Linked DNA regions of Homo sapiens: all the other regions are reported to be linked to region 2. Evidence: microRNA targets listed by miRTarBase, many of them from high-throughput screens and not tested one by one. Region 2 holds a microRNA gene; each other region holds the end of a gene's coding sequence.

Region 1 (10,947 bases), not on the chromosome of region 2:
CAGGGTTAGAAACATTCACAGCTGGTCATCAGGATTTATTCAATGAACAAATGAGCTTAGGCAGACCTAACTTCTAACATTCCAAGTTAGAACTTGGTAATACTTGTCTGAATTCACAACTGATTAGTAGGTTCCTGGTCAACACTCAGCATTTTTTTTTCTTTTTTTGAGACGGAGTCTCACTCTGTTGCCAGGCTGGAGTGCAGTGGCACGATCTCAGCTCACTGAAAACTCCGCCTCCGAGGTTCAAGCGATTCTCCTGCCTCAACCTCCCGAATAGCTGGGACTACAGGCGCATGCCACCACGCCCAGATAATTTTTGTACTTTTATTTATTTTTTTCTTTGAGATGGAGTCTTGCTCTGTTGCCCAGGCTGGAGTGCAGTAGCACGATCTCGGCTCACTGCAACCTTCGCCTCCCAGGTTCAAGTGATTCTCCTGCCTCAGCCTCCTGAGTAGCTGGAATTACTGCACACCATCACACCCGGCTAATTTTTGTATTTTCAGTAGAGACGGGGTTTCACCATGTTGGTCAGGCTGGTCTCGAACTCCTGACCTCATGTTCTGCCCACCTCGGCTTTCCAATGTGTCGGGATTACAGGTGTGAGCTACTGTGCCCGCCCTAATTTTTGTATTTTTAGTAGACGCGGGGTTTCACTACGTTGGCCAGGATGGTCTTGATCTCTTACCCTCATGGTCCGCCTGCCTCGGCCTCCCAAGGTGCTGGGATTACAGGCGTGAGCCACAGCACCTGGCCAACACTCCACATTTTATTTATATATCAGAAAACAATCAGGTAACAGTATGTATCACTGGCCATGATTTGTCTCTAGAGAGAATGGGTAAAGGAAGCAAAATTTATACTTAATATGATGCTTTGTTAAGTGACCCCAATTTCCTCCCACTTTTTAATACTGTTTTAATTGTTGTTATAAAATTAAGTGATTCCCTATCACTATATACTCAGGTAATATATTCAGGTAACTTTGATGGGACAAATTTCTAGCTTCCTGTTAGGACACACTAACATAGTCCTCATGTAATGTTCCCTCTTCAAGGCTGAGACTACGGATGATATGATCTTGACATTGTCCTGGAATGTCTTATGTCATAGCAGTACTACCACGAAAACAAAACCACAATTTTGTTTTTTCCTTTTGGTGGAGAATGGGGTCTCGTTACGTTGCCCAGGCAGGTCTCGGACTCCTGGGCTCGAGCTATCCTCCTGCCTCTGCCTCCCTAAGAGCTGGGATTATAGGCGTGAGCCACTGTGCCCAGCCACAATTTTTTTTTAATTAAAAAAAATTTTTTAGAGATGCGGTTTCATGATCGAGACCATCCTGGCTAACACGGTGAAACCCTGTCTCTACTGAAAAAAAAAAAAAATTAGCCGGGCATGGTGGTGGGCGCCTGTAGTCCTGGCTACTCGGGAGGCTGAGGCAAGGAGAATAGCATGAACCCAGGAGGTGGAGCTTGCAATGAGCCAAGATCACGTCACTGCACTCCAGCCTGGGCGACAGAGCAAGACTCTGTCTTTAAAAAAAAAAAAGAGCGAGAGATGCGGTTTCACTATGTTGCCCAGGCTGGTCTTAAACTCCTGGGCTCAAGCGATCCTCCCACTTCAGCCTCCCAAAGGGCTGAGATTACAGGAGTGAGCCACCATGCCTGGCTGACATTTAATTTTTAAAGCTTTCAAACAAAGACACTTTGGTTTTTAGAGGGTTCAGCTACCAGTTTATTGGGCCCTAGTGAGTCCCAAGATTTCCATCTACCAGTTGCTTGGGTCCTAGATTTCATATGCTCCCACAGTTGGCCCTTTGGTACAGGCAGGTGTCTCTGTCCAAATGTGGGCAAGATCAAACTGCAACAAGGCGCTTCCTTTGGTCACCTGAAAAGAAATTGTAGGTACAGTGGGCTGTCACAGCATCCTTGCTAGTTCTGGTTATAGCCATGTCACAGAGAAGGAAATTATGTAAATAATATTGAGTGACAGATGTTTTCTACTTTTTTTTTTAAACGGAGTCTCACTCTGTTGCCCAGGCTGGAGTGCAGTGGCGCAATCTTGGTTCACTGCAACCTCTACCTCCTGGGTTCAAGCAATTCTCCTGCCTCAGCCTCCTGAGTAGTTGGGATTACAGGCACCCGCCACCACACCTGGATAATATTTGTATTTTTAGTAGAGACGGGGTTTCACCATGTTGGCCAGGCTGGTTTTAAACTCCTGACCTCAAATGATCCACCTGCCTCAGCCTCCCAAAGTCCTGGGATTATAGGCATGAGCAACCGCACCCAGCCTTTTTTTTTTTTTTTTTCAGACACCGTGCCAGGCTATTTTTTATTTTTTGTAGAGACAGGGTCTTACTATGTTGCCCAGGCTGGTTTCAAACTTCAATGATCCTCCTGCCTTAGCCTCCCAAAGCACCTGGATTACAGGTGTGAGCCACCATACCCAGCTCTGCTGGGTTTCATTGGTGAGTTTGTCTTCCTGGCAAGGGATATACAGGATACCCTTGCACATCATCCACAACCATTCAAATACCATGTTGTGATTGCTAATTTTATGTGTTAACTTGACTGGGCCACAGTGTGCCCAGATATTTGATCCAACATTATTCCAGATGTTTCTGTGAGGGTGTTTTTGGATAAGGTTTTTTTTTTTTTTTTTTTTTTTTGAGACTGAGTTTCACTCTTGTCGCCCATGCTGGAGTGAGTGGAATGATGCAATCTCGGCTCACTGCAACCTCCACCTCCTGGGTTCAAGTGACTCTCCTACCTCAGCCTTCCAAATGGCTGGGATTATAGGAATGTGCCACCATACCTGGCTAATATTTGTGTTTTTAGTAGAGACTGGGTTTCACCATGTTGGCCAGGCTGGTCTCAAACTCCTGACCTCAGGTGATCCGCCCACCTCCACCTCCCAAAGTGCTGGGATTACAGGTCTGAGTCATCGTGCCCAGCCTGGATAAGATTAACATTTAATTTGGTATAGAAGTAAAGTAGATGACCTTCCCTAATGTGTGTGGGCCTCATCCAATCAGTCGAAGGCGTGAATAGAACAAAAAGGCCAACTCTTCCCCAAGTAAGACAGAATGCCCACCTTTGAACTGGGATGTTGTCTTTTTTCCTGCTTTTGGACGCTAACTGAAACACTGGTTCTTCCTGGGTCTTGAGCCTGCTGGCTTTTGGACAAGAACAACAACATTGGCTCTTCTGAATCTCAGGCCTTCACATTTGAACTGGAACTAAACCATTGGCTCTCCTGGGTCTACAGCTAGCCAATTCACCCTGCAGATCTTGGGACTTGCCCACCTCCATAACTGTGTGAGCCAATTCCTTATAATAAATCTTTAGGCTGGGTGCAGTGGCTCACACCTATAATTCCAGCACTTTGGGAAGCTGGAAGCTGAGGCAGGAAGACTGCTTGAGCCTAGGAGTTTGAAACCAGCCTGGACAACATAGTGAGATCCTGTCACTAAAAAAAAAAAAAAAAAAAAAAAAAGAATCTTTATACACATACACACACACCCTACTGACTGCTTCTCTGGAGAACCCTGACTAGTACAAGGGGTCCCTAATTTTCAAGGGCTCATACCCTAATCCCAGATCTACCAGAAGAATGAATCTGCCAAAGGAGTGCTATGACGGCCTGGAGCCCTGAAGCAAAATGGCAAACACGTAACATAAGACTGCACCAGAAAGTCAGACATGATTTGTCAGCCTTTATTAATCAAGAGTAAAGCCGAGCCCTAGGGTTTCCTTAACAACAACAAAAAGAACATCAACCTTGTTTATGGCAAACAGTGACTTAATTCTTAATGACTGTTCATTATATGTTTAACACCACAGAGCAAGAATTGATCACGTTTCAATCACTTATTCTTCTGAGATTAAAATACAAGATTAAAACAGATTAAAATAAAATTCACTCCAAGAATTTAAAAAATAATTCCAAATGAAGGACATTTCAAACACTGTATATAGAACTCAGGACCAAAAGAAGACCTTAAAACATTTTTTACCTTTGAGGTAGCACAATAATGCTGAATTAGATTTATTTTATTACAGTGAGCTTAAAAAAACAACACGGAATCTACCCTTTGCTCAAGGTGGGCTAAATGGTTTTACGCAAACCCCTCCATGAGGTTAGTGACAGTTCTTGTCCTTTTTTTTTTTTTTTTTTTTTTTTTTAAAGTATAAAGATAGCCCTGCAGTGTGTAAAAGGAAACCTATGGGAAGGCTGCTTCCCATAAAATAGACAATAGAATCATTGAGGAACGTCAGCAGTCAAGACAGGAGGAACAAGAGGTCATTGTAGTGAAAAACCAAAACAACTTGTATCTTGGCAAGATTGGTTTACAAGTTCATGACAAGAACAAAAATTCCAACATCAGCCAACTGAAAATAAAAGATAAAAGATGACATTCATGGATCTTTTTATTTTTCTCTGTGCAAAATGCTCTTCTTTCTGAATTAGAGGGTAGCTTGTACACTGTGACATGACATGAAATGCTGTGTGCCCAGGGTGCTGCTGGGTGCCAACAGCACCTCTCACTGAATACGATATCACTGTGTGCAGAGAAAACGGGCAATCAGAGGATAAACATAACCTCTCCTGGCTGGAGAACCATTTCTTGCGACTTTGCTGCTGAATTCACTCATTAAACTGCTCAAAGGAAAAGCTCTACCCTGATTTCTGAGAGTCTACAGCAATATATGTAACACAATTATATATGAAGACTATTGACTAACAGGACAATAGCACATGAACCTTTCCTTCAGAGAATTCAACCAAGAGAAGAGAGTGGGTGGCATAAGCTGGGGGCCAAAAGGAAGGCTCTCAGGAATATTCTCTACCATCCAAAATCAACAGCAAAGCCAGAAAAGGGGCATGAGCTCTAATTCATTGAAGAGAACACCACAAAACAGTTAACAAAGGGATCTCTTTCCAACACATGCTCCTCTCCATGAGGCTCAACCGTCAGTGCAGGGCTTGCCTGATGTGGACAATGTGGATACCTCAGCCCTGAGTTGAACTTGGCATGCCACCTTTGATTCCCCATGCTGCAAAAAGAATTGGAACGCTGTCAGGTCCTGGCACCGTGGTAATGGCTATATCCTATTTCACTCACACACGTCCTTTTAAAGTCTCCCTTCCTCAAGCTATTAAATAGAACCCTCTAGGGATCCTGTATGCAGTGAGGGTCTGAACTGATGATCCATATGTCAATCAGTAGTTGGAGGAGGATGACTTTTTTTTTTTTTTTTTGAGATAGGGTCCCACTTTGTCCCCCAGACTGGAGTGCAGTGGCACGATCATGGCTCACTGCAGCTTCAGTCTCCCAGGTTAAAGGAATCCTTTCACCTCAGCCTACTGAGTGTGCACCACCAGGTCCAGCTAATTGTTTTTTTAACTTTTTTTTTTTTTTTTTTTCTTGGTAGAGACAGGGTCTCCCTCTGTTGCCCAGGATGGTTTGGAACTCCTGGGCTCAAGCAATCCTCCCACTTTGGCTTCCCAAAGTGCTGAGATTACAGGCATGAGCCACTATGCCCAACCTGAGCAGGATGACTTAAACCTGATCAATTCTACTCCAAAACAGCAACTATCATTAAGTCAGGGGTGTCAAGGAGGACTCTGTGAAGGCAAAGACTAGACTGGGATGTGTGCGAGAGTGGGATAAGAAGGCCCATCCCTAGCAGACTGCAGGAGTGACTCTGGCATAGAATTCATGGCCAGCCCTAACTAGTGTGATGGGTGGCAGGGAGGAGGCATCTGCTCAGTGTTCAAACAAAATCCTTACAAGTTCTGGGGCTGGACCTCTGTGTCACTCCTGAATCCCAATGTATCCGTTACCTTTACAAGAAACTGGTGTGGTTCTTGTCTGCTAAGGGCAAGACCTGTTTTCTGAATTTACTTTCTGATAATAAAGTAACACCATGGAAAAGAAGAACCTCAGAAAAATATGGGGTCACCACATGGGCTTTCCCAGTGCTAGCTGCCTGTTTTGGAAAGCTGCAATGTAGGCTACAGAGGGCAGTCTGAAAAGAGTCCTTCTGCTTTCGCTTCCTGGAGCTTAAGAAGAAAAGAGGAATTACCAAGGTTGTGGTGGGTTATTTACTCTGGAAATATCTTGGTCACACTGTCCGTGGCAAAAGCGGAAAGCCTAGCTTATGTGGATAGTTGAAGGTGACTGTGTGGGCCATCATTATCTACAATAGAAATGACTCAAGCCCTAGCATGTAATCTCTTAGGGACTTAACAAGTTAAAAAGAAACAAAAAATCATATTGGAAATGGCCTCTTGGTTTAATATAAACTTGGTTACAACATTCAAATTTATCTTTACGGAAATTTCACACTGCTCCTAGGAGCCCTTATAGCATCTGATTCTAAGTTATTCTGAAGGAAAAAAAAATTATTCTGAAATATACCTTATTAGGATGATCACTGGAATTCTACCAGATATAAGTAAAAGGCTAAATGGGTTTTAAATAAATACAAGCTAAATTACCTTCTTCTGGGGTTAACAATTAGAATCCCAAATACCCCAACATCTCAACTAGAAAGGCCTTCACAGTAATTCTATGAAATTGTAAATGATGCCAAATTTTTTTTTTTTTTTTGAGATGGAGTCTTGCACTGTCACCCGGGGTGGAATACAATGGTGCAATCTCGGCTCACTGCAACCTCCACTCCCAGGTTCAAGCGATTCTCCTGCCTGAGCCTCTCAAGTAGCTGGGATTACAGGCGCCCACCACCATGCCCAGCTAATTTTTTGTATTTTTAGTAGAGACGGGGTTTCACTATGTTGGCCAGGCTGGTCTTGAACCCCTGACCTCGTGATCCGCCCGCCTCGGCCTCCCAAAGTGCTGGGATTACAGGTGTGGGTCACCGTGCCTGGCCAATGCCAATTTTTGAAAACAGATTTGATCTTTAGGGTAAATGCCTGAGTCAGCTGACAAACTCCATATACATGAATATGTCCAAGTGAAATTACCTAAAGAATAATTTTTTTTCTTTCTTTTTTTTTTTTTAAGAGACAGGGTCTCACTGTGTCACCCAGACTGGAGTGCAGTGGCATGATCACAGCTCACTGTTGCCTTGACCTCCTGGGCTCAAGTGATCCTTCCACCTCAGCCTCCTAAGTATTTGGGACTACATGCATGCATCACCACACCTGACAAATTAAAAAAAAATTTTTTTTTTGCCAGGTGCAGTGGCTCACATCTGTAATCCCAGCACTCTGAGAGGCTGAGGTGGGCGGATCACCTGAGGTTGGGAGTTTGAGACCAGCCTGACCAACACAGAGAAACCCTGTCTCTATTAAAAATACAAAATTCGCCCGGCATGGTGGCGCATGCCTGTAATCCCAGCTACTCAGGAGGTTGAGGCAGGAGAATCACTTTAATCTGGGAGGCGGAGGTTGCGGTGAGCCAAGACCGCACCATTGCACTCCAGCCTGGGCAACAAGAGCGAAACTCCGTCTCAAAAAGAAAACAAAAAAAAAATTTTTGTTTTTGTAGAGACAGGATCTCACTCTGTTGCCTAGGCTGGTCTTAAGCGATCCTCCCAGCTCAGCCTCCCAAAGCACTACAATTATAGGCATGAGCCATTGAGCCTGGCCTGAGAATTTTCTTTAATTTCAAAAAAATAGCTGCTGCTTCTTTAAAGAGTTTAAAAATTGATCGGTTCAATGGCAAAGCTACACAACAACTCTGGAGTAGAAGGAAAGAACTCTCTTTATAGTACAACCTCTTTCCAGCATACTGCCATCAGCTAGTAGAGGCAACTGCAAACAAATGGTAGGAGTTGCCCAGGAAGGTATTTGGGCTGGACAAAGTGATAGCAACCCTCCAGACCCTGGCTCCTTATAAATGTATAGCAATTCATTCATACAAACTGCACAGAGGTTAAACAAAACCTACTAAAAAAATTAAAAAATCCCACAAAATCCCCAACCCAGAAAACGTTTCCTGGCTCTCTACTAACAGTAAAATGTGCTGAGCCCAAATTTTCTGCTCTAACATGGGTCCCACGGACCTATCAGTCTGCTCTGGGGTGCTGACCTGCTGGGTCCTGAGCAGGGTCTTTCCCTAAGCATCACTGTGGGTTTGGAGACAGCTGTAATGTGTGCAGCTGTCAGCAGAAAGTACAATGCCACTGGGCTACATATGTCCATATCATCCACCACCATTTCCCACTGTAAAACCAAAGGCTGCAACTGTGAACAAATGTGGACTTCCTCAAAGGACAAATGAGGAGACTGAAGGCTACATTTCCTCCTTTGAGAACCATTAGAGAGTGTCTACAGTTATACAACAGGTTTCTGCAGACCCTGTGGTAACTTCCAAAAGCAAGAGTAGCAGCAAGAGAGGAAAGGAGCATGTTTATACTTTGGACTTTGTATCAGGCACTTAAATTGTTGGAGAGACATGCCGTTTTGAACCAAAGATATAAAAACTGGGTTGGAGTAATCTTTACAAGTGGTCTAATGAATGGGCCTTCAGAAGCAAAGTGGAGGTGTGGGTTGAACCTCTGCCCATCCTTTAGTGCTGACTTTCAAGTTTTCTAAATGCCCATAACCACAGCAATGGCAGCAGTGGCGGCAACGGCAGGAACAGTTCTGTCATGTCTGTTTTCTGTATGTGTTCTGTGGCTGACCAGAAGGTTTTGGTGTCACACTAAGAAGGCTCTGGGGTGTGGCACACCTACTGCCCGAGGTTGCCCAGATCCACGCTGGAGCCAAACATCTTCACCAGCTGTTCCTCATAGTGTGAGATGTTCCTCTTCATGATGTCCATGCAGGGCCCCAGAAGCCTCTCGAATGCTTGTACATCCATAACTGCATTGTTAAAAAGAGGTGAGGGAGAGAATGAATTCAAGCCATTTCCCTCATGCAAACCTTTTCCTAAACATACCCATTCATGTTGTATGAGATTACGCCTTGGGACACCAGCCACTTGCAAAAAGGGATGTTTCTATATGAATTCAGAAGACTGTCATCCAGGTTAGAGACTTTACAGAGTCCAGCAGCTCCTGTTCTCCCCATTCTCCCACAGCCCTGGACATCAGTTCTTTTCATACGGCTAAAGAACCTGCATGCCTGTCTTGCTCACAGGCTGTCATCAGTACTCAGAAATGTTTGCTGAAAGCATCCATTCATCCATCTCTGGTTGGTCACATAAACTGCCTAGGCCTAGACAGCAGTAAAAGATGGCAGAATATGTCAAGGCTTGCTGATGGGAAAAAAATATTACATGTTAGAAAAAGAATATTAATGCATAAAGAACTTTTCTTACCTAAGCATTTGACATCTCCAACTGCATAAGCTGAGGCAGCTCTGGGTTTGTTGGTGACCAGGGCAAGCTCTCCAAAGTACTGCCCCTTATGGCAGCGGGCAATCTCGACCTCCTGGTTCCCACCATCCTTGTTTGATTTAGTCTACAGCAGGCAAAGAACATGACCTAGGCTGACTCCAGGATCACAGCTGGGCATGTCCAGTTGCACACACATACACTGTTCTCAGCATACTCTACACAATTACTGAGGAATTCACTTTGCAGAAAATTCACTAACTGTACCATGTAAACTCCATGGACTAATCTCAGTGGTCTGGTTTGATCAGAAAAGTCTGCTTTTTACCTAGAGCTCGGAGTCCTAACATTTTCAAGGTAATCTACAGCCATACCATTCTGAACATGCCCAATCTTGTCTAAATAAGGACAATGCTTCTCTTAGGTAATGAGCCACAAACTTGGGCTATTTCTCTGATTTGAGACTGCGCCTTGAACAACATTTTACAGTGACAAAATCCCCCATGCCCCCCACATTTTTTTTTAAGAGACAGGGTCTCACTCTGTCACCAAGGCTGGAGTTCAGAGGAATGATCACAGCTCATGCAGCCTTCAACTGTTGGCCTCAAGCAATCCTCCCATCTTGGCCTCCCAAAGTGCTCGGATTACAGGAGTGATTCACTGCTCCTGGCCAACAAATTTCTTTTTAAGTACTATTTGTACCTTAAGTTAGTGGTTCCCTCCTCCTTTTTTTTTTTTTTTTTTTTTTTTTTTTTTTTTTGAGATGGAGTCTCGCTCTGTCGCCCAGGCTGGAGTGCAGTGGCGCAATATCCGCTCACTTCAAGCTCTGCCTCCCAGGTTCATGCCATTCTCCTGCCTCAACCTCCCAAGTAGCTGGGACCACAGGCGCCCGCCACCACGCCTGGCTAATTTTTTTGTATTTTTAGCAGAGACAGGGTTTCACCATGTTCGCCAGTATAGTCTCCATCTGCTGACCTCATAATCTGCCCGCCTCGGCCTCTCAAAGTGCTGGGATTATAGGCACTCCCCCCTCCCATTTTTTAAAATAAGAGTTAAGTAACTAAATTTAAGATAATATACTACATTATATTAATATCTAGAGGTTTTTTTTTTTAACAAATCCAACTGCTAACCAAAGTGATAATTTAAGTAAATAATTGTTTAGAATTTATTAGTAAGAATTAGTCTCAATCTCTAAGAACCACTTTATGTTGTAGGCAGAAAGATAATTTCCTTTTTGGTTAATTTTTAAAAGAAACAAAACTGCTACACTAGCTTACACGGTTTGACCCTTCTTCCTTCTACACTTCTGCCCTGTTGCTCTGAAGTTGGTCTGTTTCATCTGAGCCAACTTTCCCTTTCCAATTTCAGTAGTATTCTCTGGAGTTGCAGCCATATTCGTGCCCACTTAGTCCCTTCTCTAAAACAGAAGGGACTTATCACACTGTCACATACACACCAGCTCCCGTATTACGCAGGTTTTCTCGCAATGCACATTCTGATTCAGTAAATCTGGGGAAAAGCCAGGACTCTGAACTTCTGACAAACCACCCATCCCCAATATCCCAGTGCCATGCTGCTGCTGATCTTATGCACCTAACACTATGCTGTGATCATAGCAGGTGTCAATGAATATC
Region 2 (10,947 bases):
GGCTAATATCCAGAATCTACAATGAACTCAAACAAATTTACAAGAAAAAAACAAACAACCCCATCAAAAAGTGGGCAAAGGATATGAACAGACACTCCTCAACAGAAGACATTTATGCAGCCAAAAGACACATGAAAAAATGCTCATCATCACTGGTCATCAGAGAAATGCAAATCAAAACCACAATGAGATACCATCTCATACCAGTTAGAATGGCGGTCATTAAAAAGTCAGGAAACAACAGGTGCTGGCGAGGATGTAGAGAAATAGGAACACTTTTACACCGTTGGTGGGACTGTAAACTAGTTCAACCATTGTGGAAGACAGTGTGGCGATTCCTCAAGGATCTAGAACTAGAAATACCATTTGACCCCAGCCATCCCATTACTGGGTATATACCCAGAGAATTTTAAATCATGCTGCCGTAAAGACACATGCACATGTATGTTTATTGCGGCACTATTCTCAATAGCAAAGACTTGGAACCAACCCAAATGTCAATCAATGATAGACTGGATTAAGAAAATGTGGCACATATACACCATGGAATATTATGCAGCCATAAAAAAGGATGAGTTCATGTCCTCTGTAGAGACATGGATTAAGCTGGAAACCATCATTCTGAGCAAACTATCGCGAGGACAGAAAACCAAATACTGCATGTTCTCACTCATAGATGGGAATTGAACAATGAGAACACTTGGACAGAGGGCGGGGAACATCACACATGGGAGCCTGTCATGGGGTGGGGAGAGGGGGGAAGGATAGCATTAGGAGATATACCTAATGTAAATGACGAGTTAATGGGTGCAGCAAACCAACATGGCACATGTATACCTATGTAACAAACCTGCACGTTGTGCACATGTGCCCTAGAACTTAAAAGTATAATAATAAAAAAAAAGAAAATGAATGTGAACTTATTCTTTGAGGAGAGCCATGCCCTAAAAGATGAAAAGCAGCTATTCATCACAATGCAAGACTTCAGAAAATAGTTAATGATCATGAAAGTTGGCCTGTTCTTATGGACTACGTGTGTGCAATTGCCCACAATCTACCCTTGTAATATATTTTTAATATGCTGAATTTTCTTTTTAGTTTTTTAGTTTTTTTCTTACTTTTCCCCCACTATTTTAAAGTATCAGCATTATTTTTTACAATTTGCTATGCTAAGTATTTCTCTTTGCATCATTTCTAATACTAGAGGTATAAACCATGTAAAGACTTTTGGAGAGTTTTGATTTGTTTTATGCATTTTTTTTGCAAATTTGACTTCCCAAAAGTGCATTATCACAACACTGATTGTGTGTAACCATTGTGCTTGTATGTAAAAACACCAAAGCTTTCTCAATAAGTGAAGATATTTCCTCTTCATACAACTGCATTTGTGAAAGGTAAAATTTTTTGAGATCTAGGCTCTTTGCACGACTGCATATGCAGTGGTGACCCATTGCAGTTTTTGATTCATCTTATCAAACGACATAGGTCATCTGTCACAGTATTTCAGATAACTGAAATTATAAACATGGGTGCACACAATTACCAACCATAGTGATCTACATTTATACATTTTGCTTTTGACCTATTTCTTTGTGAATACAGTTCATCTGCTTATAACTGTTATATCTGTGCAACTGTTGTTAGTATATCTAGTGTTTATGCTTGAAAAACATATAGTTATTATTGCCTATTTCATTTTGTAAAGTGGCCTATGAAGTGTTCTGGTATATTTCTCAAACAAAGACCCTTTTAAAACATAAATATTATTAAAGAATTTTTAAAAATTATTTTTTCCAGAATTACATTTTCAGGATTTTGATTTTTTGGCATTTCAGCATTTGGAATTATGCTCCTGATTTATGCTCCTGAATTATGCTCCTGAATCATGCTCCTGATTTCAGGTGATCTGCTCACCTGGGCCTCCCAAAGTGCTGGGATTACAGGTGTGAGCCACCATGCCCGGGCCTTCTTTTCTTTTCCTTTCCTTCCTTCTTTCTTTCTTTTTTTTTTCTTTTCCTTTCCTTCCTTCTTTCTTTCTTTTTTTCTTTCTTTTCTTTTCCTTTCCTTCTTTCTTTCTTTTCCTTTCTTTCTTTCTCTTTCTTTCTTTCTTCCTTCCTTCCTTCCTTTCTCTTTCTTTCTTTCTCTTTCTTTCTTTCTTTCTTTCTTTCTTTCTTTCTTTCTTTCTTTCTTTCTTTCTTTCTTTTTCTTTTTCTTTTCTTTTCCTTTCCTTCCCTTCCCTTCCTTCTTTCTTTCTTTCTTTTCTTTTTTTTTTTTGAGACAGGGTCTCACTGTGCTACCCAGGCTGAAGTGCAGTGGCATGATCATAGCTCACTGCAGTCTTGAACTCCTGGGCCCTCCTGCTTCACCTCTCAAGTAGCTGGGACTATAGGTGCATGCCACTGTACCTGACTAATTTTGTTTGTTTTTTTGTTTGTTTTGCAGTTTTTATAGAGAGAGGGTCTTGCTATGTTGATCAGGCTAGGCTCAAACTCCTGGCCTTAAGTTATCCTGCCTCCTCAGCCTCCCGAAGTGCTGGGGTTATAGGCATGAGCCATCATGCCTGACTGTTCTTTTCTAATATGAGCATTTAGTGCTATAAATTTACCTCTATGTACTGCTTGGTCTGCATCCCACAAATTTGGATATGTTGTATTTTCATTTTTATGTATTCTAAAATATACTGTATTTTCCCTTGAGATTTCTTTTTTGACCTAGAGATTATAAGTGTGAAATTTAGTTTCCAAATATTTGCAGTTTTTTCCAGATATATTTCTGTTACTGATTTCTATTTTAATTCCATTTTTGGTCAGAGAATATACTTTGTATGACCCAAATCCTTTTAAATGTATTCAGACTTGCTTAATAGCCCAGAATATGGTCTGTCTTTGAAAATGTTCTATATGCACTTGAAAAGAATTTGTATTATGTTGACCTTTTTGTTTGTTTGTTTTTTGGTGGAATGTTCTCTGAATGTCAATTAGATCAAGTTGGTTGATAGTGTTATTCGAGTTGTTATTTGTACTGATTTTCTTTCTGTGTCTATTAACTACTGAGAGGGAAGTGTTAAAATATTTTATTATAATCATGTATCTGTTAATTTATCCTTGCAATTTTTCCATATTTTGTTTCATGTATTTTGAAGGTTAGTTGTTACAAATATAAGCATTTATGATTCCTATCCTATGTCCTCTTGATAATTTAGCACCTTTATTTTTACTAAATGGGAAACAGCTTTATCCCTGGCTAAATACTTTTTGCTCTGAAATCTGCTTTTTCTGATATTAATATAGCCACTACAGCTTTCTTAAGATTACCGTTTATATCCTTTTGCTTTTCACTTATTTGTATCTTTTTACTTAAAGTGGGTTTCTTATTGGTAGTATTTATTTGGGTCTTGCTTTTCGCTTATTTTTAATCAAATCTGGACATCTCTTTCTTTTAATTGGGATGTTTAGACCATTTACATTTGATATGATTATTGAGATGCTTCAGTTTAAATATAGCATCTTGGTATTTGTTTTCTATGTCTCATCTGTTTTTTGTTCTATTTTTCTTCTTTTTCTACCTTCTTTTGGACTAATTCAGTATTTTTAAAAAGTATTCTATTTATCTCCTCTACTATTTATACTATAAAATGTAAAATAAGGACTAAAGTAACACAATAAAGAATTATGGATAATATTTATGGATAATAATATTTATTATCCATAATTCTTTACTGTGTCACTTTAGTTCTTATTTTACAGTTTATAGTATGTACATTCTTAATTATTAATTTTTACTATTATCTACAAATAAAACCCAGGGTTTATGATTAATGGCCAAAAATACAGTAGGTTAATTTAAGGGAAACGGTGGAAATATTTATTTTTGAAAAATAAGTTTGGGAATAGTCAAAACACTCCAAGAATTATTCAAAGTTAAGAGAAGGAAAGGAATGTGTGTGTGCATATATGCATGTTTATGTTTGTAAGAAGTAAAGTTTGGATAATCTGACTTCTCTACTTTTACAAAACAACAACAAAGCCTTTCCCTCTGCCATTCATTCACTCATTCATTCAATAAATATTTGTGGGTACCTAGTATAGACCAAGTGTGGAACATTTTTACTATTCAATGTCTGCCCTGCACTGTATAACTTTGGAAGTTATACAATAAGTCAGAATAACTTTCTGGTGAAACTTCCTGGAGGAATTTACAATATGATAAAGGAAATAGTATATCTCTTCAAGTAGAGACCCATTGCAAAAGCACAGCACAAAATTTGGTACTTACCCTAGGTGGCGTGCACTGGGTTAAGGGAGGAGTGGTTAGAATGACTTTGTTGAGTGTTGAATGCCCTTTAAAATCACATTTGACTTTTGTAAATCCAAATTCTCTTTCTTGATGAGATAAATGGCAAAGCCTTAGGCTTGTTCATAAATTCATTTTTTGGAAATATTTATCTAGTTTTTCTAGTGTCAATCATGGGGCAGCTGCTGAAGATTCAGAGGTAAACAAAGCAGACCTCTTCCTGTGACATGCAGTTCAAAATGCCCCTGTCACCTATGCTTGGAGATGTAGGGTGACTAGAATGATGTGCCTTCTGGCAGACCCAGGTGTTCAGACCAACTCCTGCCACTTGGGATGGGCAGAAATGTCTTCTGTGTGAGTGCAGAGAACCATCCCCCACCAGGCAGTTGAAGTAATGGAGGGATTTAGTAACTCCTACCCCTCCAGCCAGAACTATCCAAAGACAAAACTGACTTTCTTGAAGGATAAAAGTTTCTGTCATGGGGGCTATTCAAGTACTGGCTTAATGACCACTTGGTAAGAATGTTGCTGAGGGAATTCAGACATCAACTGATGGGAGTGAGACTGGACAACCTTACAGCTGGAAGGCATGTGATTTAATGAACTCCATGATGCCCAATCCCCAGGGCTCTGGCATTTCCTGTCTGTAGCTGTAAGGCCAGCTGGGCTCGCCTCACCATCTGCGGCCAACCCATCATCCAGAGTCACATTAGAGGACTGGGTGGCCCGATGTCTACCCAGACAGGCAGTCAACATACCCTGGGGCTTACTGTAGAATCTTGAGCCCTTGAGATAAACCTGCCGCCCTGCCCCACATGTGCTGGACAGCATTCCTCCTCCTCAAACCCTAACCCCAGCGGGCTGCTTCTTTCCGTGACCCTGGGGTCACTGTGGCTTAAGTCTTGCAAGGCTGGAACCAGACAGCAGGGCAGGCTGTTTCATAAGTGTTCCTTGGTCTGTCCAAGTTTGTACTTCCTTTAAAAGATCTTTCAGTTGTTATTTTTTGTTTTCCCCCTTCTTTTCATTAACTTGAAAACAGCAAATCATATTTTGCCAAGGGAGAAAAACCCTCCCTCACCCAAGAGATTCCTTCTTAATTCAGCCCTTAGTAAACATTGTTTCTGATTGGATTTCTAGCCCGGCCTGGCACTGGTTCTACCAATGAGATCACTAACAGAATTTGAGAAAAACATTTGGGACCTGTGGCCTTGATTTGAAAAATCACCCTGTCTCTGTTCTGTTGTATTGCAGATGAGGAGACAAGAGATGCTTACGGTGTGTGTGTACAGAAGGGCACACCTATTGTTTACAGGTGTTGAAATAGAATGTCAACTGTCATGACAAGGAGGGCCTTAACCAGCAGGCCACTGCATCACCATGTTGAATGAACTCAACTCCAAACATGTTAATGTAATATGAAACATACCGATGGTGATCGGGCCCCAACTTTCTCTCTTACTTCCTCTCCTGCCTATATGCCTATCCTTTCCTCAATAATTGGCCAAATTGCTTCAAATTATTGCCTTTAGCAATGCTACTTACATGTCTCCAAGAATTCTGGTTAAAAGGAGTGGGTACCATGGGATGGATTTCTCATTAACTGATTAGTACCCATCTTAGCAGGACTTGCTTTATCTCATAGTCTAGCAGAGAACTATAGAGTGGAGGTGGGATGGGACTAAAACAAGAAGATTTTGATGGAGAGGGGAGGTGAAGCAAAGAACCTGATGTGAGCAGAGTCTAGGGAAGTAAGCAGGAAGGTGAGTGACCCAGGAAGAGCAGATGTAAGGATTGAATGACAGGGTGAACATGGTGGCAAGTGTGAGCATTTTCTGCCTTGTCTCACCCAAGGGTATCTCCCCAGTAGGTATTTAGACTATTCCTCCACTCACCCTTGTAGCCTACCAAGAGCAACATGATGAAGGGCTTCTTGGCCACTGCTCAAGGGCTACTTCCTATTAGATAAAACAAGGAAACAACAGAGGTAAAACCTGCTGGCTTCCAGGTACAGCCCAGGCTCATATCCAGGAGTCCTTGGCTAGACTTTTGTGTGGCAGATAGGGCACTGGGCTTGGAGTCAGAAGACCTGGCTCCAGCCCAGCTCTGCCATGGACCAGCTATGAGATCTTCAGGCAGCCTCAGTCCCTTCATCTGTCTAATGACATCAGGCTTCTGCATCCTCCCTTTGGGAGACCTCACATACTTCTGTGACACCATCTACAGCTACTATGCCAGAGTCCCCTAAATCCATATCACCAAGCCAGACCTCTCCCTTGAGTTGCCGAGCCCTGAACCCAAACTTCCCCAAACATCTCTGTTTGGGATTTATATGTCCCTAGAACTCAGCATGCCCAATCAATCGTTCACTTTCTTCCCAAACCTGTTCCTCTTCCTCATCCTACTTAGGTGAATGGCACCATCATCTACTCATGGGCCCAAACAGAAATCTGGATGTTTGCCCCAGCTTCCCCTACACCATTCACAGTCATCCAGTCACAAGTCCTGTATGTCCTCTTAAATATATCCTGAACCATCCCTACTCCCCATCCCCATTCCCACTGCTCTGAATGAAAATCTCTTCTCTCTCCTGGACCACTCAGGATCTTCCTGGCTTATTCCCTCAGTCCAGCATCTGCACTGGCTGATTACTCTTTTTTTTTTTTTTTGAGATGGAGTCTCGCTCTATCCCCCAGGCTGGAGTGCAGTGATGTAATCTTGGCTCACTGCAACCTCCTCCTTCCAGGTTCAAGTGATTATCCTGCCTCAGCCTCCTGAGTAGCTGGGATTACAGGTGTGTGCTACCACGCCTGGCTAATTTTTGTATTTCTAGTAGAGACGAGATTTCACCATATTGGCCAGGCTGGTCTTGAACTCCTGAACTCAAGTGATCAGCCCGCCTTGGCCTCCCAAAGTCCTGGGATTACAGGTGTGAGCCACTGCACCTACCCATTCTGATTACTCTTTCTAAACTGCACAGCTCATTCATGTACCTGCCTTACTTAAAACCCTTAGCAATTACCTATTTATTTCCCTAGGGTAAAAATCCAAATTTCCTTACCATGTCCTGAAATATACTCACCTGTGATCTGGCCCCGAGTTCCTCTCTGGATTTATCTCCTGTCCACCTCCCCTCCCACACTTCACACTCTACTTCAAGCCATACTCAGCTGCTCAAAGCACCACACTTGGGCCACGCTTTCTCTTTTATAACTTGAATGCCCTCCTGCTTGCCTGGCATTCCTTTGGTCCCCTTCTTTGCCTGCTCAGCTCTGACTCCCATCAGGAATGAGACCATATTCCTCAGGAAACCTCCCTGGTTCTCCTGAGCCAGAATGGACTCCCTCTGTGCTCTCTTAAGTTGTGGTGCCCTCCTGCCATGGCAGCTAGGCCGGGGCATTGCCTGTTTCCCTTGGTGTTCTGTGAGCTCCTCAAGTGTGGGCAGCACATCTTAGCTTGTTCTGTCTCCCCAGGGTCTGGCATGGTACCTAGCCCTTGATTAGTGCTTGCTGAATAAATGAATGATTGAGTCTCTGTCATCTCACAGAGTACTTGCAAGAATTAAATGACATGTGAAAATACTTTGTAAACTGTAAATGTGTTAGGGACATTTCTGAGAGTCAAGGGGTTTAGAGAGGAAATGAGCATGCTAGGCCTCTGGACAGTGAACCGAAAGGATGTTGAGCTGTGGTGTTCTAGGAGAGTACCAGGACTGCTCTGGACATGACATACTACCTGGGACTACTTGTGAAAGGAAATGAGCATCCTGAGAAATCACTTTGGGTCCTGTGTACTCAGGGAGGATTGTTTTTATATGGTTCTGGTTTGTTCAGGAAGCACAGTCTGTCCTCCAGTCAGGCACTCAGTGAGCAAATGCATTTGTAGCTTGAGGCCAGAGCTTCCTTATGTTTATATGACTCTTTATTAGGTGAAACATGCAGCCTCTTGGAACAATAAACTGTCTTTGTTACAGATGTACACTAGATTTTGATGGCATTTTTCCAGGGACCCTGGGAGCATCTGTGTTCTCGTGTTCTTCTTGCCTGTGAGGCCTCTTCTCTCTGAGGACAGATGGTAGGACAGAGAGAAGACAGCAAATGGAAAACAAAGGCTGCTATTTTTTTGTGGGGTGTGTACAATATCTATTCTACATCTCTGCCCATCCCCATTTTCTCCTCCTCCAGAGAGCATACAATTAAGGCTATAAACTGAAGTGGAGCCCCCATTATTTACCCCTAAAAATGAATACAGATCTCAGCCTCTCATTACCCCTTGGTTAGAAAGAGAGAGCATTTTGGTCTGTTTGGGCGACTATAACAAACATACCTTAAACTGGGTGGCTTTTAAACAACAGAAATTTGTTGCTCACAGTTCTGAAGACTGGTAAGTTCAAGATCAAAGCACCAGCAGATTTGGTGTCTGGTGAGGGCCCACTTCCTGGATCATAGATGATGCCTTCTTGCTGTGTCCTCACATAGTAGAAGGGCAAGGCAGCTCTCTGGACCCCTTTCTTTCCTTTTCTTTTCTTTTCTTTTTTCTTTTCTTTTCTTCTCTTTCCATTAATCCGGTCCATGAGGGCTCCATCCTTATAACCTAATCACTTCTCAAAGGTCCCATCTCCTAATACTATCGAGTTGGTAATTAGGATTCAACATATTAATCTGTGGAGGAAGGGGACACAAAAATTCAGACCATAGCTGGTAGTGATGAAGATAGAATGAGCCAGGTCCCAATGTGGGGCCAGGTGTGAGGGGGGCAGTAGCTGGTCATGGACATGTGGATGTTTGCTGAGTGATGGGTGAGCAAGTCCCTGCCATCTCATAGGGACACTGTAAAAACTGCCCTCTTGATGACCTTAGCAGTGCAATCATATTAGCAATGACATCCACCTTGAGGAGGGAAAAGATGGGTGTGAACAAGAAGGATAGTTTCTTTCTCCTTACAGCATCCATTATGTAGCATAAAAATTAGGGCCCCCATGTATCCAGGAAAGCAGTCAGAGCATTCATTATTCAATAACCATAGGTGCTTATTCCATACTGTTATGGACTGAATCGTGTCACCTCCAAATTCATATGTTGAAGCCCTAACTACCAATATGACTGTATTTGGAGATAACACCTTCAAGAAGGTAATCAAGGTTAAATGAGGTCATAAGGATTGGATCCTAAGCTGATAGGACTGGTGTCCTTATAAAAAGAGACACTAGAGATCTCTCTCTCTCTTTGTATACACAGAGAAAAAGTCATGTGATGACACACCAAGAAGGTGGCTGTCTGCAAGCCAGGAAGAGAGGCCTTACCAGAAACCAATCCTGGTGCACCTTAATCTCAAACTTGAGCCTCCAGGACTGTACGAAAATAAATATTTGTTGTGTAAGCACCCCCAGTGTATGCTATTCTGTTATGGCAGCCCTAGCACACTAATATAAATGCCTACTGCCTGCAAAGTGCTTTGCCTTTGAGGGTTGCAAAAGAGGATCCCCTCCAGGGATCCATGGTCTCATTGGGATTTTCCTGTTTGGTCTGTGTCCTGTTCTTGAGTCTCCGCAGGCAGCATTTCTTCCTGTGACAATATGGTGTAAGACAAAATTGTGGCCTGCCATGAAGTTGTGAGAGAAAAGCATCCCTCATTTCTTCAGGAAAGGCCACTGCCGTTCCCTCCGGCTCCTCTTCTCAGGAGTTTGTGCATTCATGAGGTAAGTGACAGAGTCACTCTCAAGCTCCTGCTGTATAAAATTTCTGTAACAAATAGATGCTTGTCCCAGATGGCTCCAGCCAGGCTGATGGGGAGGATGTGGGTTCCCTAGCACTTCCCAGTTTGCAGCATAAGTGTATTAAAACTTCCATGTCTTACTTAAAATAGAACTCCTAAAGGCACACACATAACTTCAAGTTTTCTCAGCATTTCATGACTTTTTTTAAAAAAAGCTTGGACCAATTCAGTTTTCACTCTTGCAAACAGGGTATAAAAGCTTCTGTTTCTTCCCCAATGTCAACGCTTGGTAATCTTATTCTTCTTCCCAGTTTTATTTTAAAAGTAATGCCCACATGTGATGGAAGTTACACTCAAATAGGACAAAACACTATGCAAAGTCTCCTTCTCCTTGTCCTCACTCCCTCCCACTCCCAACGGCAATCCACTTTAACCAGTTCTGGTTTCAGTTCGTTAGGTGGTTGCCACAAAATACTGAGTAATATGCTTATACCTCTCTTTTTTGATTTATCAACTTTCAACAGTATTTATTGACTCCTGCCACATGAGGGTGTGTGTTATCCTCCACTGCCTCTGTGTCTTTCCATCTTCATAATTTTAGACTGTATTCCACTTGATTCCTTACAAGAAAAATGAGGAACTCATTACCCCATTTTCCCCTCCACCCTTCCTACTTCCTTCACCTTCTAACTTCTGCCTTTCCTGGATTCTCTTTTGTATTTACTGGGTTTGTAATAATTATATTCTACTCTGAAACCATAGTTAAGTCTTCCCTGCTTTGTTTAAAATTTGATTCTAAATATTGAAAACCAATATACAGTTTCTTCCCCAATGTCAATCCTGTGAATATATAAAAATTATTTACTGAAGAATGAAGTAAGAAATAAATAATCCTAGGCAATGCAAAAGAAAATGAATTCTCTTTTCCTACCCTAATCAGTT
Region 3 (10,947 bases), not on the chromosome of region 2:
TTTGTACCCATTACCCAACTTCTCTTCATCCACCTCTCCCACCCACGTACACCCTTCCAATCTCTGGTATCATTCTACTCTCTACCTCCATGAGATCAACTTTTCTAGCTCCCACATGTAAGTGAGGACATGTGATATTTGCCTTTCTGTGTCTGGCTTATTCACTTAACATAATGACCTCCAGTTCCATCCATGCTGTAAACATGATTTCATTTTTTATGGCTTAAGTCCACTGTGTATATATATCATATTTTCTTTATTCATTTGTCCCCTGATCAACACTTAGGTTGATTCCATATCTTTGCTATTGTAAACACGGCTCTACAGTAAACACGGAGATGCAGGTTATCTTTTTTATATACTGATTTCTTTTCCTTTGGATAAATTCCAGGTAGTGGGATTGCTGGATCACATGGTAGTTCTTTTTTTTTTTTTTTGAGACGGAGTTTTGCTTTTGTTGTCTAGGTTGGAGTGCAATGCCCTGGTCTCGGCTCATTGCAGCCTCTGCCTCCCAGGTTCAAGTGATTTTCCTGCCTCAGCCTCACAAGTAGCTGGGATTACAGGCACCCTCCATCACACCCAGCTAAATTTTGTATTTTTAGTAGAGAAGGGGTTTTGCCATGTTGGCTAGGCTATTGTGAACTTCTGACCTCTGGTGATCGACCAGCCTTGGCCTCCCAAAGTGCTGGGATTACAGGTGTGAGTCACCATGCCCAGCCCACATGGTAGTTCTGTTTTTGTTTTTTTCAGACATCTCCATATTGTTTTCAGTAGTGGCTGTACTAACTTACGTTCCCACCAACAGTGTGTAGGAGTTCCCTTCTCTTTTTTTTTCTTTTTTTTTTTGGAGAAGGAGTTTCACTCTTGTTGCCCAGGCTGGAGTGCAATGGCACAATCTTGGCTCACCACAACTTCTGCCACCAGGGTTCAAGCGATTCTCCTGCCTCAGCCTCCCAAGTAGCTGGGATTACAGGCGCGTGCCACCACTCCTGACTAATTTTGCATTTTTAGTAGAGATGAGGTTTCTCCATGTTGGTCAGGCTGATCTTGAACTCCCGACCTCAGGTGATCCACCCACCTCAGCCTCCCAAAATGCTGGGATTACAGGCGTGAGCCACTGCGCCCAGTCAAGAGTTGCCTTCTCTTAGCATCCTTGCCAATACCTGTCATGTTTTGTCTTCTTAATAACAGCCATTCTAACTAAGGTACGATAATATCTCATTGTGTGCTTTTTTGTTTTTGAGTCAGTCTCGCTCTGCAGCCTAGGCTGGAGTGCAGTGGCGCAACCTCAGCTCACTGCAACCTCCCCCTCCTGGGTTCAACCGATTCTCCTGCCTCAGCCTCCTGAGTAGCTGGGATTACATACGTGCACCACCATGCCCAGCTAATTTTTTTGTTTGTTTGAGATGGAGTCTCGCTCTGTTGCCCAGGCTGGAGTGCAGTGGCGCGATCTTGGCTCACTGCAAGCTCCGCTTCCCGGGCTAACGCCATTCTCCCGCCTCAGCCTCTGGAGTAGCTGGCACTACAGGTGCCCGCCACCACGCCGGCTAATTTTTTGTATTTTTAGAAGAGATGGGGTTTCATTGTGTTAGCCAGGATGATCTCGATCTCCTGACCTCATGATCCACCCACCTCGGCCTCCCAAAGTGCTGGGATTACAGGCGTGAGCCACCGCGCCCAGCCACCCAGCTAATTTTTGTATTTTTAGTAGAGATGGAGTTTCACCATGTTGGGAAGGCTGATCTCAAACTCCTGACCTCAGGTGATCCGCCCACCTCGGCCTCCTAAGCTGCTGGGATTATAGGCGTGAGCCACCAGGCCGGCTTCATTGTAGTTCTGATTTGCATTTCCCTGATGATTAGTGGTGTTGAGCATTTTTTCATGTACCTGTTGACCATCTGCATGTTTTATTTTGATTCTCCTTCTATTATGATTATTATTATTAATTATCATTATTATTGAGACAGGTTCTCACTCTGTCACACAGGCTGGAGTGCAGTGGTATGATCACAGCTCACTGCAGCCTCAACCTCCCTGGGTTCAGGTGATCCTCCCACCTCAGCCTTCAAGTCGTTGGAACTAGAAGTGTGCAACACCATGCCTGGCTAATTTTCGTTTTTGTAGAGATGGGGTCTCTCCATGATACCCAGGCTGGTCTGGAACTCCTGGGCTCAAGTGATCCTCCCACCTCAGCCTCCCAAAGTGCTAGGATTACAGGTGTGGACCACCATGCCCAGCCTATTATTGTCATTTTGAAACAGAGTCTCACTCTGTCACCCAGGTTGGGGTGCAGTGGCAAGATCAAAGCTCACTGCAGCCTGGAACTCTTGGGCTCAAGTGATCTATGCTCCCACTTCCACCTCCTGAGTAGCTAAGACTACAGGTGAGTGGCTATTTGGATTCTCCTTTTAAACAGAGTAGCAACTTGAACCAAAAATACTTTTGTTTCTTCAGATCCTATGTTGTAAATCACTTCTCTTTGAACTAAGTATGCAGAAGACTTAAGAAGATGAAGCTGAACAATAAAAATATTAACTAAACAGATTGAAAGAAACTTTTTTTTTTTTTTTTTTAGATGGAGTCTCGCTCTGTCGCCAGGCTGGAGTGCAGTAGTGGGATCTTGGCTCACTGCAACCTCCAACTCCCTGGTTCAAGCGATTCTCTTGCCTCAGCCTCCTGAGTAGCTGGGATTACAGGCACGCATCACCACACCCAGTTTTTGTATTTTTAGCAGAGACAGGGTTTCACCATGTTGGCCAGGATGCTCTTGATCTCCTGACCTCGTGATCCGCCTGCCTTGGCCTCCCAAAGTGCTGGAATTACAGACATGAGCCACTGCACACTGTACCCGGCCTGTGGTTTTTTTTTTTTTTTAAGACAGAGTCTCACTCTGTGGCCAAGGCTGGAGTGCAGTGGTACAATCTCGGCTCACTGCAACCTCTGCCTCCCGAGTTCAAGCAATTCTCGTGCCTCAGCCTCCCAAGTAGCTGAAAACAGCACAACCTGCTAATTTTTGTATTTTTAGTAGAGATGGGGTTTTGCCATGTTGGCCAGGCTGGTCTCAAACTCCTGGCTTCAAGTGATCCACCGTCCTCGGCCTCCCAAAGTGCTGGGATTACAGGTATGAGCCATAGCGCCAGGCCTGAAACAAACTTTCAAGTAAGACTAAAACTGTTCCGTGTAGCTGATGAGTTGTTTTTCCTGCCACTCATTATAAAAATACAAAAATTGGCCGGGCACAGTGGCTAACACCTGTAATCCTACCACTTTGGGAGGCTCAGATAGACAGATCACTTGAGCCCATGAGTTCAAGACCAGCCTGGGCAAAACCCCATCTGTACAAAAAATACAAAAATTAGCTGGGCATAGTGGCATATGCCTGTAGTCCCAGTTACTCAAGAGGCTGAGATGAGAACGAGAAACACCTGAGCCCAGGAGGTCGAGGCTGCAGTGAGCCGTGACTGTGCCACTGCATTCCAGCCTAGGCTATAGTGAGACCCTGTCTCAAGAAATAACAAGAACAACAAAATGCTCTTGCTTTCAAATTATTTTATTGCCCATCAAATTGTAAATGTTTCTTCAAGACTCTTGATCAGATAATTATGAGAAGTCACACAACATACAGGAGATGACTGGGCTTCAATCGACTTTACTTGTCAATAACAGAGTACAACTGAACTTTAAGTGGGAGCTGAATTTCTTTCTTTCTTTTTTGAAACAGAGTTCCACTCTTGTTGCCCAGGCTGGAGTGCAATGGCACGATCTTGGCTCACTGCAACCTCCGCCTCCTGGGGTCAAACGATTCTCCTGCCTCAGCCTCCCGAGTAGCTGTGATTACAGGCATGTGCCACCATGCCTGGCTAATTTTGTATTTCTTTTTTTTTAGTAGAGACAGGGTTTCTCCATGTTCGTCAGGCTGGTCTCAAACTCCTGACCTCAGGTGATCTGCCCACCTTGGCCTACCAAAGTGCTGGGATTACAGGTGTGAGCCACTGCGCCTGGCTCTTTTTTTTTTTTAATAGTGTCTTGCTGTTACTCAGACTGAAGTGGCGCCATCATAGCTCACTATAGCCTCAAACTCCTGGGCTCAAGCTATCCTCCTTCTTCACCCTCCCCCACCATGCTCGGCTAATTTTTAAAATTTTTAGTAGAAATGAGGTCTTGCTGTTTTCCAGGCTCGTCTCAAACTCCCAATCTCATGCAATCCTCCTGCCTCAGCCTCCCAAAGTGCTGGGATTACAGGTGTGAGCCACTGTACCCAGCTGAGAGCTTAAGTTTCTTGCATAAAACTCAGCTGTATGCTGAAGTGTTTAGAAGTGAAATGTAATGATGTCTGCAACTTACTTTGAAATACATTAATAAAATGGATAAATGAATGGATAGAGGGATGGATAGGCAGATTGACATGTGTAAAACAAATAGAGAAAAATGTTATTTGTAGAATCTAGGTGATGCTAAAGGCCACACAGCCAGTGGGGACTGAGCCAAGCTAGGAATCCAGGTCCACCAATTCAGGAGAGGCTATGTGGTGAAGTAAAGATAACACCCCGTTCCCAGTTTTTGTATCTGTTTTTGTTTTGAGACAGAGTCCTGCTTTGTAGCCCAGGCTGGAGTGCAATGGAGCCATCTCAGCTTACTGCAACCTCTGTCTCCCAGGCTCAAGTGATCCTCTTGCCTTAGCCTCCTGAGTAGCTGGGACTACAGGCATGTGCCACCACGCCTGGCTAATTTTTTGGTAGAGATGGGGTTTCACTATATTGCCCAGCTGGTCTCAAACTCCTGACCTCAAGTGATTAACCAGCCTCAGCCTCCCACAGTGCTGGGATCACAGGTGTGAGCCACCGTGCCCGGCACCAGTTCCCATTAATTATCTTGGAACCCAAGGATTCAAAGAAGCAGTCTTTTCAAAGAGATATTTGAGTCACTGACCACCAGTCCTGGAATGCAGAAATGCTTAGTCCCACCTACCTCTTTTGTTCATTCCTTCAAAAGTTTCCTCTTCAAAAGTAGGGCTAGCAGATCTAAATGGGCCAGAAAGAACTCTCTTAACTGTTGTTTTTTGTTTTGTTTTGTTTTTTGAGACTGGAGTCTCACTTTGTCGCCCAGGCTGGAGTGCAGTGGCGCGATCTCAGCTCACTGCAAGCTCCGCCTCCCGGGTTCATGCCATTCTCCTGCCTCAGCCTCCCCAGTAGCTGGGACTACAGACGCCCGCCACCATGCCCGGATAATTTTTTGTATTTTTAGTAGAGATGGGGTTTCACTGTGTGAGCCAGGATGGTCTTGATCTCCTGACCTCGTGATCCACCCACCTCAGCCTCCCAAAGTGCTGGGATTACAGGCGTGAGCCACCACACCAGGCCTTTTTTTTTTTTTTTTTTTGAGATAGAGTCTTGCTCTGTTGCCCAGGCTGGAGTGCAGTGGCGCTATGTTGGCTCACTGCAACCTCCACCTCCTGGGTTCAAGCCATTCTTCTGCCTCAGCCTCCCAAGAAGCTGGGATTACAGGTGCACGCCACCAGGCCTGGCTAATTTTTTTTTTTTTTTTTTGAGACGGAGTCTCGCTCTGTCACCCAGGCTGGAGTGCAGTGGCGCAGTCTCGGCTCACTGCAAGCTCCGCCTCCCGGGTTCACGCCATTCTCCTGCCTCAGCCTCCCAAGTAGCTGGGACTACAGGCACCTGCCACCACTCCTGGCTAATTTTTTTGTATTTTTAGTACAGACGGGGTTTCACCATGTTAGCCAGGATGGTCTCGATCTTCTGACCTCGTGATCTGCCCGCCTCGGCTTCCCAAAGTGCTGGGATTACAGGTGTGAGCCAACGTGCCTGGCCGTTTTTTTTTTTTTTTTTGGTATTTTTAGTAGAGATGGGGTTTCACCATATTGGCCAGGCTGGTCTTGAACTCTTGACCTTAAGTGATCCACCCTCCTCAGCCTCCCAAACTGCTAGGATTACAGGCGTGAGCCACCGCGCCTGGCCTTCATAACTGTTGACATACAAGCATTACAGTAAAAATTAGACTGGAAAGACTATGCCTTGATTTCAACTTTAATCACAATTAATTTATTCTTTCTTTAAAAAAAAAATGTAATCCCAGAACTTTGGGAGGCCAAGTCGGGTGGATCACCTGAGGTCAGGAATTGGAGACCAGCCTGGCCAACATGGTGAAACCTGTCTCTAGTAAAAATGCAATTAGCCAGGCATGGTCGTGGGTGCCTGTAATCCCAGCTACTCAAGAGGCTGGGGCAGGAGAATCGCTTGAACCTAGGAGGCGGAGGTTGCAGTGAGCCAAGATCATGCCATTGCACTCTAGCCTGGGCAACAAGAGCGAAACTCCATCTCAAAAAAAAAAAGAGGCTGGGTGCAGTGGCTCACGCCTGTAATCCCAGCACTTTGGGAGGCCGAGGCGGGAGGATCACGAAGTCAGGAGATCGAGACCATCCTGGCTAACACGGTGAAACCCCCGTCTCTACTAAAAATACAAAATATTAGTTGGGCGTGGTGGCGGGTGCTTGTAATTCCAGCTACTCGGGAGACTGAAGCAGGAGAATGGTGTGAACCCAGGAGGTGGAGCTTGCAGTGAGCGTAGCTTGGGCCACTGCACTCCAGCCCAGGCAATAGAGACAGACTCTGTCTCAAAAAAAAAAAAAAAAAAAAGAATCCTCCGGCATTATATCTCCAGCTACTGTGGCCCAAGAATATATCTTTATCAAAAAATACAAAATCCAGGGAACATGCAAATATCTGAAGAAGAAAAAAACACTGCAATCACTAATGCATACAGTGAAGAGTTGGCCCAGTTCCAGAGTCCGCTATGTTTGATAGTTTGTGCACTTGCAGAATGAGAGTGGGGGGGGAGTTCCCCACCTGAGGCCACTGTCCTCTCTATGGCCACCTCTAGGTCTTCAAGACCAAGGAACACCTACACTCCAGGTGTCTCCTTGCCAGATGTTTCACCTGCATTGGTAAAAGGCAGAATCCTCGGCAGGGGTCGGTGGCTCACGCTTGTAATCCCAGCACTTTGAGACGCCGAGGCGGGTGGATCACGAGGTCAGGAATTCAAGACCAGCCTGGCCAAGATGGTGGAACCCCGTCTCTACTAACAGCACAAAAATTAGCTGGGCCTGGTGGCGCATGCCTGTAATCCCAGCTAATGGGAAGGCTGAGGCAGAGAATGGCTTGAACCCAGGAGGCAGAGGTTGCAGTGAGCCGAGATCACGCCACTGCACTCCAGCCTGGGCGACAGAGCATGACTCCATCTCAAAAAAAAGAAAAGAATCCTGGGATGAGCTCCGCCCCCCCCACCAGCCGAGGGACAGGCCTGAGGTATCCCCTCTATTCTGGGGGGTCCAGAGTGGGTGCAGGCTCCTTTAATAGGCACTGGAATGTAGGGGACCCCATCTCAGAGGAGTAGGAGAGATACAGGCCAAAAAGCAGAGAGCTACAAGGGAGAGAACAATCATGAAGGAAAAGCCAGTTAGGTGAATGGTTTTCAGTGAAGGATGGGACGTGAACACGGGGCCCTGTGTGCTGGAGCTTCAGAAAATGGGGTCAACCCCCAGGCACCTTTTCAGATTCCTGCCTCCTCCCCACAGCCCTCTGTGCCCCTACCTCTGCTTTTTACCTAAGGCAGAACTTTGTTTTCCTCAAACGCCCACTTCCTTTCCTTATCCCCCAAATACACAAACCTTGCCTCTTCCTCTCCAGGGAAACGCTGACCAGTTTGTGTGAACGCCATCACCCACACTCTTGAAATATATCTGGAAAGTGCCGGAAGTGAACTGGGGGATCCTTGCCTCCCAAAACAGGGATGGGCTCTGAACGCCCCACCACGGCCTGCTGCCACGCGCGCCTCTCGCTGCAGGAGCGGTGGATCCACCGATGGGCTTCCAGGGCGGTCTTGCGCTTGAAGCCTTTCCCACACTCCACGCAGGGGAAGGGCCGGCTGTCGGAGTGAATGCGCCGGTGACTGAGGAGGAGGGAAGAATAGGTGAAGCGGCGGCCGCAGTCAGGACAGGGGTAGGGCTTCTCGCCGGTGTGTATGCGCCTGTGGATGGCCAGCAGGGAGGTGTAGGCGAAACGGAGGCTGCAATCGGGGCAGCTGTAGGGCTTCTCGCCCGTGTGCTTGCGCTGGTGGATGGCCAGCAGGTAGGGGTAAGTGAAGCGACTCTTGCAGTCTGAGCACGCGTAAGGCTTCTCCCCGGTGTGAGCCCGCCTGTGGATAGCCAGGGAACCCCTCTGGCGGAAGCGGCGCCCGCAGTCGGGGCAGGGGTAGGGCTTCTCGCCGGTGTGGATGAACTGATGCTGGAGCAGGTACCTGCGCTGGGAGAAACGCGCCTGACACTGGCCGCAGGAGAAGGGCCGCTCCCCGGAGTGGACCCGCTGGTGGCTGGCCAGGAGGGAAGGGTAGCTGAAGTTGCGGCCACAGTCTGGGCAAGAGTGGGGCAGTCTTCGGGTCAGAGTGTCCTTGAGCCAGGGATTCATGGGGCTCTGCCTAGGGTTGCAGAACTCTGGGCAGGCGACGCTGGGCCACCACTCCTTGACAGCCACTTCATGCGCCACCTCTTTTTGTTTTGGACACTTCTTCAGCCTTTCCTTCTCCTCATTCCCATCCCTGGATCCTGAAACAGGGAAGATGATAAAATCAGAAACTCATCCCTGGATCCTGAGACAGGAAAGATGATAAAGTCAAAACCAGCATATTCCGGGACCATGTCCTGCCTTGGAAGGCAGCAGGAATGGTTCAGAATATGGCGCCCAGGGAGCACGGCTTAATGATAGGGGCCTCATGAAGCCCTGAAAGCCAGCCTGGAGTAAAAGCAAATGCCATGGTCTGCAGGTTAACACAAGAAGGCCCTGAGCACTGGAGATAATGAAAGAGGAGTCGGGCCGGGTGCCATGGCTCACACCTGTTATCCAAGCACTTCAGGAGGCTGAGGTGGGAGGATCGCTTGAGGCCAGAAATTCAAGGGACAGTGAGCTGTGATCGGGCCACTGCACTCCAGCCTGGGCAACTCTCTAATAAAAAAAAAAAAAAATGCTGGGCGTGGTGGCCCATGCCTGTAATCCCAGCACCACTCTGGGAGGCTGGGGTGGGCAGATCACCTGAGGTCAGGAGTTCGAGACCTGCCTGGCCAACATGGGGAAACCTTGTCTGTACTAAATTACAAAAATTAGCCAGGCGAGGTGGTGGGCGCCTGTAATCCCAGCTACTTGGGAGGCTGAGGCAGGAGAATCCCTGGAACTGGGGAGGTGGAGGTTGCAGTGAGCCAACCTCGTGCCACTGCACTCCAGCATGGGCGACACAGCAAGACTCAGTCTCAAAAAAATAAAAAAAGAAAAAGGAGTGAACAATATTGAACGCTTAACTCTGTGTCAGGCTTTGAGGACACAGTGATGGTCCCAGTCCTCATGGCACTTACCATCCTGAACCTGTTTATGATCCCTTTACAAAACAGCCATTCAATGACCTTCTTTGGTACCAGCTCAAATTCTTTTGGCACCTTTCCTCTCTGCTCTTACCATCACCAAAAAGTCTACACTTGCTGGTGGGGCACAGTGACTTACGCCTGTAATCCCAGCACTTTGGGAGGCAGAGGCAGGTGGATCACGAGATCAGGAGTTCAAGACCAGCCTGGCCAAGATGGTGAAAGCCCGTCTCTACTAAAAATACAAAAATTAGCTGGGCATGATGGCGGGTACCTGTAATCCCAGCTACTCAGGAGGCTGAGGCAGGAGAATTGCTTGAGCCTGGGAGGCGGAGGTTGCAGTGAGCCTAGACCATGCCACTGTACTCCAGCCTGGGCAACAGAGCGAGACTGTCTCAAAAAATAAGTCTACACTTGGACTGCCTCACTAGGTTCCACGGGAAGACCTTCTGGGAACAAGCATTTATTCTGGTATCAGGGCTGCAGGAAAAACATTTCTCTTCATTTAAAAATCTAATTAATGGTGTTATTTACTACACGTGGTTCACATCATTAATATCCAAGAGGAACATCTGTCTTCATTTTATCCCACAACAAAAATCAAATTACAGGTTTCCCCTTTCCCTTGACCTCCTAGGAAGCTCAAGCTCTATTTTGCATTAAACTGAGGTTTTCCAGTATGGTTAATCGGTTCCATAGATCCCAATTTCGCTGTTCCATCGGGCCATTTTGCAGTGAGATGAGGACGTTTCTGGGGTAGGGTGCAGGGAGACAGGATGGGACTTTGGAGGGGGCAGCCTGCGCTGAGGATGTGAGTGAGTTGGGGGCGGGGGTTGGGGCTTCTCCACGGCTACTTATCCAAATGAAGTACCTGCTTCCTGTCCTTGGCCCCTGCTGAAAGCTGCAGAGCTCTCACCGTCGGGATCCTGGGCCTCCGGGCTCCACGCCTCCACTTCTCCTTCCACCCACGAGATAAAAGCGGGTTTGGGAACTGAAAATCCTGCGAAGGAGAAACAATGGGCTCGGCTGAGCGCACGGGAGGGGAGAATGAGACTGCTCCCTCGGCGCCCCGCTTCCAGCCCACTAGCCTCTGGGGACACCGATCACCGCTTCCCACCGACGGACTGGGGGTCCCGGCCGGAGGGCCCGGCCTCACCCAGCGCGCCCAGGTGGCCGAAGGTCTCCCGCATCACGTCCCGGTACAGGGCCCTCTGCGCTGGCCGCAGGCATTCCCACTCCTCGGGAGAGAAGTACACGGCCACGTCCGCGAAGCTCACGGCGCCCGGCCTGCTTTCCCTCGTCCTCCGGGGCCCGGCCTCCCCGGGTACGTGGGCCGGGCGCGGCGCCAGGGGCGGCCCCATGGGAAACCCTTTCTGCCTGGCAAAGGGAGGCTTCCGGGGAAGGTGGAGATGCTGGCGCTTTCCTGTCTTTCCTCAGACAAGTCCGTAAGGGACTCCTGCCCTTAACCAAGATGGAACCTTCCTGGCGTCAACACCCCTCGCCTTTCCTCTCTGCCTTTACAC

What was found. Region 2 holds the annotated microRNA hsa-miR-378g (ACUGGGCUUGGAGUCAGAAG, at 6,358-6,377, shown strand). A microRNA usually pairs through its seed, bases 2 to 8, with sites in the 3' UTR of a target mRNA and lowers its output. Matches are read on the target gene's strand: a 7mer-m8 pairs with bases 2 to 8, a 7mer-A1 pairs with bases 2 to 7 and ends in A, and an 8mer does both.
Region 1: miRTarBase lists PRKAR2A as a target of hsa-miR-378g. Seed matches in the 3' UTR shown: 7mer-m8 at 8,157-8,163, 7mer-m8 at 7,106-7,112 and 7mer-m8 at 5,480-5,486.
Region 3: the mRNA of ZNF785 is a reported target of hsa-miR-378g. The part of its 3' UTR that is shown has no 7-base or 8-base seed match.

Annotation. Positions count from the first base shown.
Region 1 is chr3:48,742,881-48,753,827 of GRCh38, forward strand. It overlaps PRKAR2A (protein kinase cAMP-dependent type II regulatory subunit alpha), which reads right to left. Exons shown (of 11, transcript NM_004157.4): 10 at 9,296-9,437; 11 at 3,706-8,838. The coding sequence ends at 8,705. Among named protein-coding and RNA genes, the nearest start is that of IP6K2, 31 kb to the left of the region's middle.
Region 2 is chr1:94,741,310-94,752,256 of GRCh38, reverse strand. MIR378G (microRNA 378g) reads left to right here and starts at 6,357; the gene lies at 6,357-6,397. All of the region lies in intron 1 of SLC44A3-AS1 (SLC44A3 antisense RNA 1), which reads left to right.
Region 3 is chr16:30,574,827-30,585,773 of GRCh38, forward strand. It overlaps ZNF785 (zinc finger protein 785), which reads right to left and starts at 10,871. Exons shown (of 3, transcript NM_152458.7): 1 at 10,581-10,871; 2 at 10,296-10,424; 3 at 5,830-8,617. The coding sequence starts at 10,785. The coding sequence ends at 7,734. It also overlaps a transcript of ZNF688 not described here. RefSeq lists an enhancer at 10,069-10,669 and a silencer at 10,676-10,805.